4 linked regions of the Homo sapiens genome follow. The protein of the gene in region 1 purifies or fractionates together with the protein of each later gene. This does not show direct contact. Each region holds a gene or a part of one and is shown on either strand. Other genes may lie near its edges.

Region 1 (3,500 bases):
AGTGGCTCACGCCTGTAATACCAACACTTTGGCAGGCCGAGACAGAAGGATTGCTTAAGCCCAGGAATTCAAGACCAGCCTGGGCAACACAGTGAGACCTCGTCTCTACAAAAAATAAAAAAAATTAGCTGGGCATGGTGACAAACCCATTTAGTCCTAGCTACTGAGGAGACTGGGGCGGGAGGATCACTTGAGTCTGGGAAGTCAAGGCTGCAGTGTGCCATGATTGCACCACGGCACTCCAGCCTCTGTGACAGAGTGAGACCCTGTTTAAAAAAAAAAAAAAAGTGTGTATTTCATTGTTACATAATTTTACATCAAAAGAAAACTGTAAGCAAATATTGAACCCTAGTTAATGACATGCATGCTAATGTATTTAGATCAAAGTGAAACAATGTCTGCAATTTATTGAGGAATGCATCAGAAAAATAAAATGAGTTGATGGGCAGGTACAGTGATAAACAAATGCTAGATATGGGATAAAACAAGTATAGCCAGGCCAGGCAGGGTGGCTCATGAGTGTAATCCCAGCACTTTGGGAGGCCGAGGTGGGCGGATCATCTGAGGTCAGGAGTTCTAGACCAGCCCCACCAACATGGTGAAACCCTATCTCTACTAAATACAAAAACTTAGCCAGGCGTGATGGCACATGCCTGTAATCCCAGCTGCTGGGGAGGCTGAGGCAGGAGAATCGCTTGAACAAAGGAGGCGGAGGTTGCAATGAGCCGAAATCACGCCATTGCACTCCATCCTAGGTGACAGAGTGAGACTCCGTCTCAAAAAAAAAAAAAAAAAAAACAAGTATAGCCAACGTTAGTGGCAGAATCTAGGTGCAAGTATTCACTGCAAAATTCTTTCAACTTTGGTGTACTCAAAAATTTTTTTTTTTTTTTTTTTTTTGAGACAGAGGCTCCCTCTGTCGCCCAGGCTGGAGTGCAATGGCGCAATCTTGGCTCACAGCAACCTCTGCCTCCCGGGTTCAAGCGATTCTCCTGCCTCAGCCTCTGGAGTAGCTGGGATTACAGGCACACACCACCATGCCCTGCTTATTTTTGTATTTTTGTAGAGATAGCATTTCGCCATGTTGGCCAGGCTGGTCTTGAACTTCTGATCTCAGGTGATCTGCCTGCCTTGGCCTTCTAAAGTGCTGGGATTAGAGGCGTGAGCACCGTGCCTGTCCCAAAAATTTTCATCATAAAATGCTGAGGGTGGAAGAATGTGCTGGAAAAAGCAAACACGGAGGCTGCACATACCTCTTTCAAGAAAGACGGACAATACTAAGTGAGAGGGGGAGCCTTAGAAAGGAACTTGAACTCAGCCTGATATTAGAAGTGCACAGGCAGGTGGGCTATGGTTATTGTCTATACCCAGTAGCATGAAAAGTAAAAGCTATGTAAAGGTGATGTATCTAATGGCAGTAATAAATTAGCTAGACATAATCATATCTAGGGCATTTTCAGACATCTGACAGAAAATCAACATGCACCATAACTGACACTTAGACCTGACCAAGGCATCTCATTAAGAACATGTACCCTTGGCCGGGTGCGGTGGCTCACGCCTGTAATCCCAGTACTTTGGGAGGCCGAGGTAGGTGGATCACCTGAGGTTGGGAGTTTGAGACCAGTCTGACCCACATGGAGAAACCCCGTCTCTACTAAAAATACAAAATTAGCCGGACTTGGTGGCGCATGCCTGTAATCCCAGCTACTTGGGAAGGCTGAGGCAGGAGAATCGCTTGAACCTGGGAGGTAGAGGTTGTGGTGAGCCGAGATCGCGCCACTGCACTCCAGCCTGGGCAAGAGCAAAACTGTCTCAAAAAAAAAAAAAAAAAAAAAAAAAAAGAACATGTACCCTTGGCCAGGCACGGTGGCACACAGAGGCACACATTGGTCAGGACTTCGGGAGGACGAGGCGGGTGGATCATGAGGTCAAGAGATCAAGACCATTCTTGCCAACATGGGGAAACCCCATCTCTACCAAAAATAAAAAAATTAGCCGGGCATGGGAACACGCACCTATAGTCCCAGCTACTTGGGAGGCTGAGGCAGAATTGCTTGAACCCAGGAGGCGGAGCCTGCAGTGAGCTGAGGTCATGCAACTGCACTCCAGCCTGGGCAGCAGAGCAAGACTCCACCTCAAAAAAAAAAAAAAAAAAAAATGTACCCCACCACATAAACCAACAAGGGAAACATTTCAGTTTCCACACCTGACCAGAGAGCTCATGGTGACAACACACAGGAAGCAAATTTGATTTTTTGAAAAAAACCTGTATGGAATTTTAAACTATAGAATAGACATAAAGATTTAAATAAAGGCTTCTCTCTTTTTTTTCTCCAAGGTACAAAAACAACATGTGAAATGGTTATCTCCCACTCCTCAACTAGGTTTCCCTTAAGAACAGTGACACCACGGGTTTAGGCTGACCAGTCTTCTCACTTTCAGAAAAGTGAAAAACCTCCTTGGGTTACAAGACACACCATCATCCTAAGCTGCAAACAAAAGCCCAAATTCCATGTTCCTATTATGCTTATTAAAGGGGATCACTTTCATTGCACATACATCTAATGCCTATGGTCAAATGCCCTAATTCTTAACATAATCCAAGCAAAAAATTGTTACTGTTTGGGCACACTTGGGAGAAAAAAAAAGGTCACATTTTTGGCACAGACACAAGGCTAAGGAAAAAAGTTCTTATTTTTACAAAACAAACAAACAAAAAATCCTAATGGTTCCATTGACAAATCCAAATGTAAACTCCCTCATACCTGTAGAATCATTTGAAGAGCAGTTGCTGTTCTTGATTGAAAGATAAAAAAGCCAAGGAGTGCGAAGCGCGCTAACAAAGATCCACTGTTCACAAGGACACAGCGATGCATGCAGAGGACATGGCTGGGCTCACTGCTCCCGCCACAGATCCCAGAGCACAAAGCCTGTCCCAGATGAAATGAATGACATCCCTGACTGTGCCAGCTCCCAAAACACCATACATGTTCTCCCAACCACAAAGAGTGTGCTGTGATTTATGGTTTACATACAGCACAGTGAGGGTTGTCCTGTCACTCTGAGCAGCTCGTCCGTGGCCATGTTGACAGTGTAGACTTGGTCCTCAGAACTCACCCCAGAGACCCTAAGGCAGCCAGCAGATGAGGCCAGAATGACCAGCAACATAAGGCTTGTTACTCTTCTGTCTTGATGAGTTACTACTGCACTTCTATCTACAAACTGAACTCTAGGGTTTGCTTCAAAATCACCTGGTGCATTAGCCTTCTTGGGCTGCCAGGACTAAGTATTATAGACTTGAGTGGCTTCAATAATAGAAACTTATTCTCTTAGAGTCTAGATGCTGAAAGTCCAAGATCAAGGTAAATTTAGCAGGGTGGTTTCTCCTGAGGTCTCTCCTTGGCTTGCAGATGGCTGCCTTCTCCATGAGTCCTCCAATGATCATTCCTCTCTGTGTCCTAATAACTTCCTATAAGGACATCCATCAGATTGGATTA
Region 2 (3,500 bases), on another chromosome or scaffold:
CAGGCTGGTGGGGGGAGACTCTAGAGGGATGAGGGACTCTACTAAAGGGAAGAGGCACACGCAGCCGGGTGACAACCCAGTCTCCGTCATTCACAACTCCGAGACCTCGGCAGGCTGTAGGACTCAGTCTGGCTGAAGAAGTGACCACGGTGGCTCGACAGCCGAAAGACCGGCACAGTCCCTCAGCATGTTTTGCTTAGCAGACAGCAGGGTCATGTGTATTTACTGCCTCTGTCACATTCCTTTCCTTCAACACCCAGGCCAGCCCTATCTCTGTCACAAAGCCCTCCTTGATCCTTCCAACTTGAGTGCTTATTCTCTCCTTGGAAACACAGAGCAACTGGCCTGTCCCATTCATTTGATGTCAACACATGTTCCTCATTATTGAACGTAAGGGTGGATGAGGTCTGTTAGAACTCCGAGAGGAGCTCTGCTGCAAACTCTGCCAGAGTTGGGACGGCTGATCTGGGTGCCTCAGGAGTTGTCCCCTTCCACCCCCAACCTTCCACATTTACTTTGTGCTCCAAAATGTGAGAAAAGTTCACAGGGACAACTCTGTCAAACAGACGCTGTCTGGTCAAGCAGAGCAGGGTAGCTGTGCATCCCTGCTAAAACCTCTCTGTTCATTGTAAGTTCTTTACATCCAAGTTCTGCTTCCAGTAAGACAAGGCTCCTCCCGCAAAAGACTCACAGCCTTGTAAGGCTGGCCTTGGCCCTCGGCCCCAAACATGGTAAGGATTTAGGAAATGTTTGCCCCTCACGTCTACTACCATATTCTACCTGTGGAAACTCACTGGTGTAGTTCACGGTTTTAAAATACTTTGTTAATAAAATCACTACATCTCTGAGCTTCCTTGCCAAGGGCACCATTTAGTTATGAAGCAAATGATGCAGAAGAGAAAACAGTACTGTGTGTTACTGTGTGTCTCCCTGTCACTGTCAGCAGCTCTCTACTCAAAATCTAGGCCCCCAAAGGCCAGTGGCTGACTGATGCCCAAGCATCTCCCAGTGCAATGACCTGAAGTCTGTTCAGAATTCAGAAAGAGAATCTCAGTCTTCAACCTCCACTAGCAGAAGCTGGGGTTTCAGGGTGAGGTGACTCCCTCTTCCCATACAGGCTTGGAGCTGAGCCCTGCTAAGCGCCAAGAAAGGAAGTGACAAATGGGATGAGGGTTCTTTTACCTGGAGTGGAATGACAATCATGAAGATCTTTTTGTCTTTATCAGAAAGGATGTGCTTAATGAAAGCCCAGCCAGTGCCAATGAGTGCAATGGTGATGAAGAGTAGCGCCCCTTTCAAACTGGAAGAGAAAACAAGGAACAGACACCAGCAGGTCTCTTTAGACTCTCACTGCCAGTTAGATTGCATAGCTCATTCTATGAGTTCACAAGCTTCTTACAAAAGACGGGCAGCCAAATTTAGGAAATCCATCATACATGAGCACCACTTCCTTCAGGGCACACAGTTAGCTCTGCACCCCACAGCCTGGACAGCCAATGGCCGCAGAGAGGCAGGAGTATGCCACTAAGCCCGACTTCCCAAGTCTGGACAGCCACCCATGAGCTACACTCCTCTGGTATGGCAGGGGCCCAGACAGGCTGCCACAGGAGGGCAGGGCTGGTTAACTTGGGGCAGGTTGTTGCCCACCCCCCTTGTCTTGTATGTCATTTCATGGTGTATTTCACATGGACCTGCATACTTACAGGTGAGTTATGTAGTACACAACAGCCCAGCCTTCGATAGGGAAGCCCTGGGAGGAGATGTAGTGGTAGTCAATCTGAAATCAAACAACTGCATTTCAGAATCACTCATTATCTACATGGCTCCACAAAGAATCTTTTAACTTGGACCCATTTGGGAAATTATCCAAATCATTGTCATTTGGTGACGCTGCCACTGGATATATTATTGCCTTTTCCAAGGAGGCCACTTTCAAGTACAGCAAAGAGTACATGTCTAGAGACTGTCATCCTTGCAAGTGTGCTCCACGGGCACTTGGAGGCCCACAGACAGGAGAAGTTGTGATCTTACCCCCTTGGGCAAGTTCATTTTAATTTGCATAAGTTCCAAATATACAAAGCTGAGGCTCAATTCTCATGCCTCCAGCTTTATAGCATCAATTTTCTCTCAGATAAATATGCTAATACTGAATTGAACTTCAAATCACAGAGGAACATGAGGGAATATCTGGAAACATAAAAAAGTCGTGGAGGCCGGGCGTGGTGGCTCATGCCTGTAATCCCAGCACTTTGGGAGGCTGAGGCGGGCGGATCACGAGGTCAGGAGATCGAGACCATCCTGGCTAACACGGTGAAACCCCGTCTCTACTAAAAATACAAAAAAATTAGCTGGGCGTGGTGGCGGGCGCCTGTAGTCCCAGCTACTCGGGAGACTCAGGCAGGAGAATGGCGTGAACCTGAGGGGAGGAGCTTGCAGTAAACAGAGATCACGCCACTGCACTCCAGCCTGGGCAACAGAGCGAGGCCCCGTCTCAAAAAAAAAAAAAAAAAAAAAAAAAAAAAAAAAAAAAAAAAAAAGTCGTGGAAACAAGTCAGCAGGTGGCACTCTCATCTCTAGAAATGGTAAAAAAACAAAACAAACCAAAAACAAAGAAATAAAAACAATAATAAGTGTTCTAGAAAAACTGTAGGTCTGTAAGCAGTATTAGAAGATGTCTGAAGTCTAATATGAGGGGAGGTGGTAATCATTTACCCGCATGGCCAGGCCCTCCCAGACAAGAGGAGGCTTTATGAGAAATGTATTCTTTGTCTTTGTTTCCCACCAATCTATCCCCTTTCTTCAAATTTCTTTTGCCTGCTCACACAGGCATTATACGTAATTTCATGAATGATCCTCAAAATGCTAATACATACTGCATGGAACACCAAGGAAAGAGACTTGGTGAAAGGAAGGGCCGCCATCAGCCAGTGGATTTTAAATACATCATTCCTATAAAAACAGAGAGAAAACAATTAAAGGAAGATTCCATTCTCCCAAAGGACAGCCAAAGCTCCAGACATTAGCTATATTTATAAGGAGACAGGAAATATAATCTGTGCAAACCACAAACATGAAACTTTTTTTTTTTTTTGAGACAGGGTCTTATTCTGTCGCCCAGGCTAGAGGACAGTGGTGTCATCACGGCTCACTGCAGCCTTGAACTCAGGCTCAAGCGATCAAGCAGCTCTCAGGAAGCTGAGGTGGGAGGATGGCTTTAGGTGTATGCCACCATGCCCAACTAATTTGTTTTGTATTTTTTATACAGAAAGGGTTTTGCTAAGTTTCCCAGGCTGGTCTTGAACCCCTGGCCAAGCAATCCACCCACTTCGGCCTCTCAAAGTGTTGATATTACAGGCATGAGCCACTGTACCCAGCTAAAACTTTTTTTTTTTGAGACAAGAGTATCGTTCTGTCACCCAGGCTGGAGTGCAGTGGCACAAACTTGGCTCCCCGCTAACTCCACCTCCCGGGATCAAGTGATGCCCCCCCACCGCCTCAAC
Region 3 (3,500 bases), on another chromosome or scaffold:
CGTAGTGGCGGGCGCCTGTAATCCCAGCTTCTCGGGAGCATGAGGCAAGAGAATCACTTGAACTCGGGAGGCGGAGGTTGCAGTAAGCCGAGATTGCACCACTGCACTCCAGCCTGGACAACACAGCGAGACTCTGTCTCAAAAAAAAGAAAAAAGAAAAAAAAAAGAAACGGTGCATCCCAGAACAACTTGGGACAAGAAACCAGCTCCTCGGTCCTCACCTCTTTTAGCCTTTGATCAGACACCACTGAAGGAACACAACACACTCCGTTTTAGTGGCTGCAGCTAAACTGACTACAGTGAGCAACTTGCTGGAGGTCACCTACTCAGGGAGCTGAAGGGAAGTGTGTTTTGTGTTTTGGGCCCTGCACAGGGAACATGTAAAAAGTGCAAGAGCAAACTGGATTCACTGCTGCCTTTTATGCGCTCTGTGAGGAAAAGGACATTCTCAACCCCACTGTATGGGACAGTTGCCTTATAAGAACCAAGCCTTTCTGTGTGTCTACTTAGTGCCATGTATCAGAATTTCTGTTTCTGGGGCCAGGCGCGGTGGCTCACGACTGTAATCCCAGCACTTTGGGAAGCCGAGGCAGGCGGATCACCTGAGGTCAGGAGTTTGAGACCAGTCTGGCTAACATGGTGAAACCCTGTCTCTACTAAAAATACAAAAATTAGCTGGGTGTGGTGGCGCACACCTGTAATCCCAGCTACTTGGGTGGCTGAGGCACGAGAATCACTTGAACCCGGGAGGCGGAGGTTGCAGTGAGCTGAGATCACACCACTGCACTCCAACCTGGGTGGCAGAGTGAGACTCCATCTCAAAAAAAAAAAAAGAATTTCTGTTTCTGGGATTAGGGAAGATCAGGGAAATAAACCAAATATCTTTTAGGATAAGGGACAGTGAGGCCCCTTCAAACAACCTAGATGAAGCTCGCCTTCTCTGGTTTCTGTTTGGTACTAGAGAAGACATCTTCTCATGGGCTTCTAGGCCAGACATGCTCTGTGAAGAAAAGACTGTGCTTAGGGGAAGGATGTTTATGGGAATGTCACCAACAATTTTAGCTTACCTTCCCATCATGACAGATTTCATACCCTTCGGGCTTACATTCATGAGACCTGATGAGCATCTTCAACTGGTATTTATTAAGAATCTTGGAAGTAACATCTGGTCCAAAATAGCAGCCCCCTCCTCGGCACGTATTTGGAAAACAGCCATTTTTGCCTCTGGGATCACTCCACAGAATATCAATAATCTTGGAACAACAAACCAGATTTCGCTGTAACTTACAAGTGAGAGTATATCTTTCTAGATTCCAACTTATTTGTCAGAAATATTAACCCAAGGTATCCCAAAGACCACTTCTCATTCTTCCTTGAAAATTGTTTCAGGCCTGGCGTGGTGGCTCATGCCTGTGATCCCAGCACTTTGGGTGGCTGAGGTGGGAGGAGTGCTTGAGGCCAGGAGTTCAAGCCCAGCCTGGGCAACATGGTGAGACCTCAACTCTGCAAAAAATACAAAAATTAGCCAGGCATGGTGGTGCATGCCTATAGTCTCAGCTACTAGGGAGGCTGAGATGGGAGGATCACTTGAGCCTGAGAGGTTGAGGCTGCAGTGAGCCATGATCACTCCACTGCACTCCAGCCTGGGTGACAGACAGAGACCCTGTCTCAAAATTGTTGGGAGCAGGCCCCCCTAAAATCTGGCCATAAACTGGCCCCAAAACTAGCCATAAACAAAATCTCTGCAGCACTGTGACATGTTCATGATGGCCATAACGCCCACGCTGGAAGGTTGTGGGTTTACGGGAATGAAGGCAAGGAACACCTGGCCTGCCCAGGGCGGAAAACCGCTGAAAGGCATTCTTAAGCCACAAACAACAGCATGAGCGATCTGTGCCTTAGGGACATGCTCCTGCTGCAGTTAACAAGCCCAACCTATTCCTTTAATTTGGCCCATCCCTTCGTTTCCCATAAGGGATACTTTTAGTTAATTTAATATCTATAGAAACAATGCTAATGACTGGCTTGCTGTTAATAAATACGTGGGTAAATCTGTGTTTGGGGCTCTCAGCTCTGAAGGTTGTGAGACCCCTGATTTCCCACTTCACACCTCTATATTTCTGTGTGTGTCTTTAATTCCTCTAGCGCTGCTGGGTTAGGGTCTCCCCTACTGAGCTGGTCTCCGCAAAAAAGAAAAAGAAAAAAGAATATTGTTTCATATTCATCTCCTCCATGAATAACCAATACAGCAATAACAATAACCAAGAATCAGGCCTTGCCATTTTTTTTTTGTTTTTTTGGCTTTAAAAATTCCATCACAATTGTTTGACAATTGTTGAATCTACAAGGTTCTTTTCTCTTAAAAGAACTTCATTGTCACATTCAGGGAAGAAATTAGCTCCCCACAATGCCCACACATTAGGTGTGTCTTAATATGTTCAAAGACATAAAGTAGGTCTCCTGCTGTGGCTCTGGGCCAGGTTTTTGTCCTGTTGAGCACATAGCCTGAGGAAGCCCTTGCTGTTTCCCAACACAAATGTGGAAACCTGTTTATCTGAGGGTGTCTCCTAAAGCATCTCCTTCACTTTTCCCCCCTCGATGGTAAGTACATTCTCAGTTTCCGCAATACATTTAGTAAATGACTGGTTTCCATAATGTGTTCTAAATCCACAAGTGTTGTATTATTATAACATTTCCTTTGGGGCGCAGGAGAGGCAAATGCAGGTTACATGATGTCCAGGACTAAAGATCCAAATTTTTAAAATCATTTTTCTGCCAGGCACAGTGGCTTATGCCTGTAATCCCAGCACTTTGGGAGGCTGAGTCAGGAGGAATGCTTGGGTCCAGGAATTCAAGAGCAGCCTGGGTAAACATGGCAAAACCCCATCTCTACAAAAACTTAAAAAATAAAAACTAGCCAGGTGTGGTGGTGCCGGAATGTGTTCCCAGCTACTTGGGAGGCTGAAGTGAGAAGATCCCTGAGCCCAGGAGGTTGAGGCTGCAGTGAGCCATGTTCATGCCACTGCACTGTGGCCTCGGCAACAGAGCAAGACACCATCTCAAAATAAAACAAAATAATATTTTTCATAAAGATTGGAGGCTCCGTCTTTGTGGCTCTCATCTATCTGTAATGTTTCTTTTCTTTTCTTTTTTTTTTTTTTGTGATGGAGTCTCGCTCTGTCACCCAGGCTGGAGTACAGTGGCATGATCTCGGCTCACTGCAAACTCCGCCTCCTGGGTTCAAGTGGTTCTCCTGCCTCAGCCTCCTGAGTAGCTGGGATTACAAGGGCCCGCCACAACACCTGGCTAATTTTTGGTATTTTTGGTAGAGACAGGGTTTTACCGTGTTGGCCAGGCTGATCTCGAACCCCTGACCTCAGGTGATCGACCCACCTCGGCCTCCCAAGGTGTTGGGATTACAGGTGTGAGCCACTGCACCCGGCCTGTAATGTTTCTTTATTGAAACTTCTATAACAGCTTAAAGCGGTGAGAAAAACTCT
Region 4 (3,500 bases), on another chromosome or scaffold:
AGCTCCAGAGGGAGAGTTTCAACATGGCCCTGCAGGGCTAAGTGAAGATTGCTCCATTTTCTTTATTTGTTAACAGTATAGTAATCCAGTTCCTGAACACACAAGGCAAGAATAGCACTGCCATTACTCAAGCAGAGGTGTGCCAAGAGGAAGAGCACAGCTGCTATCCTTTCTCGGAACAACACTCATTCAGTTTTCAAGGGGGGTGCTTTCCTTCTCCCTCACAGTGCCTTGGACCTTTACTCCACTTTGAGTAATTCTAGTATTGCTGCTCACATCCTGTCTTCATTATATTCACCTGAACAAGTGGATATAATGTCATCGTTCACATTCTTCCTTCTTCTTTATCCCCTATAGCTGATTGTCGCAAAAATGTCAATGTGTGTCTCACATTCACACCCCTCATCTCTGTTCCCATTCAGACCCCACCCTCACTGTGCCTGAATTTCTGAAACAGCCGCTTAATGGATCTTCATATTCCTGGTCTTTCCTGTTATAACAGACAGACTCTTCTTACCCATCACTGGCTGTGCAGTGCCTAGCACAATCCCTGGCATTTAGTAAACAATCAAAAATGCTGAACTCAACTGAATTGCTCCAGTTCATCCTCTCAGCTTCCCCTGGGGACTCTTTATAAATCCAGTTTTATTAAGACCTTCCAAGGGCTCTCACTGCCATTAGCAGTAACCACAGGCTGAAATGCACACCAGGGCTGAGCAGGTAACAAATGAACAACATAGGCTGAGTGGGGCTGGAGTGAACTGAAACCTTGTGCATGGTGGAGAAGACCAATGACTGCTCAGCTCCAGCCAAGAGTTTCCATGTGAGAATGTGGGCTTAGTGTTAGAGGCCAAGAATCTGGAATATTTTTTGTCGAGATCTCCAAATTTTTTAATGTTGATGACTAATTCAAAATTCAAGAAAAGCACTGTGAGCCAAGCAAAACACAGCTCTGGCCTGCACTTGGCCTGCAGGTTGCTGCTTTGTGACTCCTAGATCAAATTGCCATTGTCTGGGAATAAGCTCTCAGACCTAAACTTTAGTAACACATGCCTATCCAATCTCATTTCTCCCTCTTCCCAGAGCGCTAGACTGCCCTCCTTTATATCCACCGTTAGGAGATTCTCATTGCAAGTGATTCTCCTTTCAAAATCTTGAACCCAACTGTCCAAAAGTAGCCCGAACAGGTCCCTGACATAACTTCCCTTTTTCTGCTCACATAATTCCTTTTTCTTCAGCTGTCTAGATGTCAACTTTGACTTTTTTTTTTCTTCCAGAAGCCTTTCCCACGTCTTCCGAAATTATTCTCTCTTCCCAGCCTCTATCTTATCTGAATCTTTGTTTGCATTTCTAATGCTAACACCTAATTCAGGAGCTTATCGCTCACACCTGGACCACTCCAATAGTCTCCTAACTGATTTGTCAAAATTAGCCCATGTGAAACTGGTTTTGTTTCTCCTCCAACAGGAGGGTTAATTTGTTCCAACACCAGAAGATTCTCTTACTCAAAGCTGCCCCTTTGTGCGATCACTTTCCAGAACTTTGTTTTCCCATGTAAAGCCTCAATGCCCTAGCTAAAAGAGTGGGAGGGGGTCAGGCCTGGAGAAATTGCTGTCTCTCAGCTTGCATCCTTACATACAGTGGGCGCTCAATGAATACTTGTGGACACATTCTTTTTTCTTTTTGAGATGGAGTCTTGCTCTGTCACCCAGGCTGGAGTGTAGTGGTGCGATCTCGGCTCACTGCAGCCTCCGCCTCCCAGGTTCAAGCAATTCTTCTGCTTCAGTCTCCCAAGTAGCTGGGACTACAGGTGCGTGCCACCACGCCCAGCTAATTTTTTGTATTTTTAATACAGATAGGGTTTCACTGTGTTAGCCAGGATGGTCTCAATCTCCTGACCTCATGATCCGCCTGCCTCAGCCTCCCAAAGTGTTGGGATTACAGGCGTGAGCCACCATGCCTGGCCTGGAAACATTCTTAAACAGCAGCAGAATTGTGACCATGCGAATTTCATGTAAGTCTATTTCACAAAGATACACTTACATATTTAGCATAGCTAAATGTAAGTAATTTAATCGTATATCATTTGCGCAGGTAAAAATTCTCCTAATAAAAATTCAGCTTAGATTATCTTTCCTGATTTTCAGTTCTGCAAACTTAGCCCCTGTGTGATTGAGACAAATTCAGTGTAGGTATAAACCTGAATTTGCACATAGACTTATATGCTGCAGAAAACTTGTTTCTCACCTTCTTTTCTGAGCACTTCTGGCTGATGCCCTCCTTTATCAAGGTTAAATGGATAAAATAGATGTGAAGATTTTTCTTGGTGGAGAAGATATCTTAAGTTTCAATAGAATGGAGGATAGTATATGACAAAGGAAAGGAAGGCCACGTGCTGCTTCTTCTAGAGCGGTTACTGCCTTAAAAACTCAAACTGTAGCTATGTTATTTAGTTGCAAAAATTTATAAAAATTTAGCTCAATCACCCACAAATTGTAACATTCTTCGGTACTATGTAATTAAATTGCATTTTAGAGACGGCATAGAGACGGCGTATTTTTTTTTTCTCCTTTTTGAGACGGAGTCTTGCTCTGTTGTGCCCAGGCTGGAGTGCAGTGACGCGATCTCGGCTCACTGCAACCTCTGCCTCCCAGGTTCAAGCGTTTCTCCTGCCTCAGCCTCCTGAGTAGCTGGGATTACAGGCACCCGCCATCATGCCTGGCTAATTTTTGTATTTTTCAGAGACAGGGTTTCACCATGTTGGCCAGGCTGGTCTTAAACTCCTGACCTCAAGTGATCCACCTGCCTCGGCCTTCTAAAGTGCTGGGATTACAGGCATGAGCCACCGCGCCTGGCTTTTAAGATGCCGCCTGACAGTTTAGTGGATATGTGAGGAGAAGAAGCCGAGCAAAAATGTGTTAAACATGTAAAAGCTTCCATCTGACTGAATAGTTGGCACATGCATTTTAATCTAGATGTATTACAACGTACCTGGGATTTGTTTTAATCAAGTATGGTGAGGCCAACAGATCAGGAGGTGACTGCCATGAAGGAAGAAGCTCTTACTCACAGTTCCCTAGAAACAGGAGGCATAACACCTCACATGGGGCCATATGGGAAAGCACCTGCGTAGGTGAAGGGGCAGAAAAAGTGAGGGGAAAGAACAGGCAAAAGACTGTATTGTGAGGCAGGGGAAAGGGCTGGCTAGGTTTGGGATTGGCTAGTTTGAATAATTTTAGAGTGCTCCAGGATTCATGAGCTGCCTATAGTTGTAGTTGTCTGATGCCTGGCCCTGGAATAATAAGGGCAGGGGAAAATTGCCTCTTGCAGGGTTAAAGCCAAATAGAGGAGGTGGTTCAGAATATGGCTCTGGATTGATTGGTTTACATATCAAAGGTGTGGTCATAGGCAAGCCAGGCAAGCCATTTACCATCTCTCAGAGTTAGCTAGTCCTGGGAGGGGCAGTCTCTGGGATTAGCAAGACCCCAAAATGTCAAACC

What was found. The genes of interacting proteins can lie anywhere in the genome.
Region 2: the proteins of CCM2 (region 1) and GPR107 purify together in Homo sapiens (affinity purification with mass spectrometry; one large-scale study listed by BioGRID and IntAct). This does not show direct contact.
Region 3: the proteins of CCM2 (region 1) and PPEF1 purify together in Homo sapiens (affinity purification with mass spectrometry; one large-scale study listed by BioGRID and IntAct). This does not show direct contact.
Region 4: the proteins of CCM2 (region 1) and SQOR purify together in Homo sapiens (co-immunoprecipitation; one large-scale study listed by IntAct). This does not show direct contact.

The regions. Positions count from the first base shown.
Region 1 is NC_000007.14:45,006,701-45,010,200, reverse strand, and holds part of CCM2 (cerebral cavernous malformations 2 protein), read right to left. Parts: intron 1-3,500. UniProt on the Homo sapiens protein: Component of the CCM signaling pathway which is a crucial regulator of heart and vessel formation and integrity. May act through the stabilization of endothelial cell junctions. May function as a scaffold protein for MAP2K3-MAP3K3 signaling.
Region 2 is NC_000009.12:130,098,906-130,102,405, reverse strand, and holds part of GPR107 (protein GPR107 isoform 3 precursor), read right to left. Parts: intron 2,950-3,500; coding exon 2,874-2,949; intron 1,778-2,873; coding exon 1,704-1,777; intron 1,301-1,703; coding exon 1,183-1,300; intron 1-1,182. UniProt on the Homo sapiens protein: Has been proposed to act as a receptor for neuronostatin, a peptide derived from the somatostatin/SST precursor.
Region 3 is NC_000023.11:18,801,645-18,805,144, reverse strand, and holds part of PPEF1 (serine/threonine-protein phosphatase with EF-hands 1), read right to left. Parts: intron 1,254-3,500; coding exon 1,068-1,253; intron 1-1,067. UniProt on the Homo sapiens protein: May have a role in the recovery or adaptation response of photoreceptors. May have a role in development.
Region 4 is NC_000015.10:45,641,529-45,645,028, forward strand, and holds part of SQOR (sulfide:quinone oxidoreductase, mitochondrial), read left to right. Parts: intron 1-3,500. UniProt on the Homo sapiens protein: Catalyzes the oxidation of hydrogen sulfide with the help of a quinone, such as ubiquinone-10, giving rise to thiosulfate and ultimately to sulfane (molecular sulfur) atoms.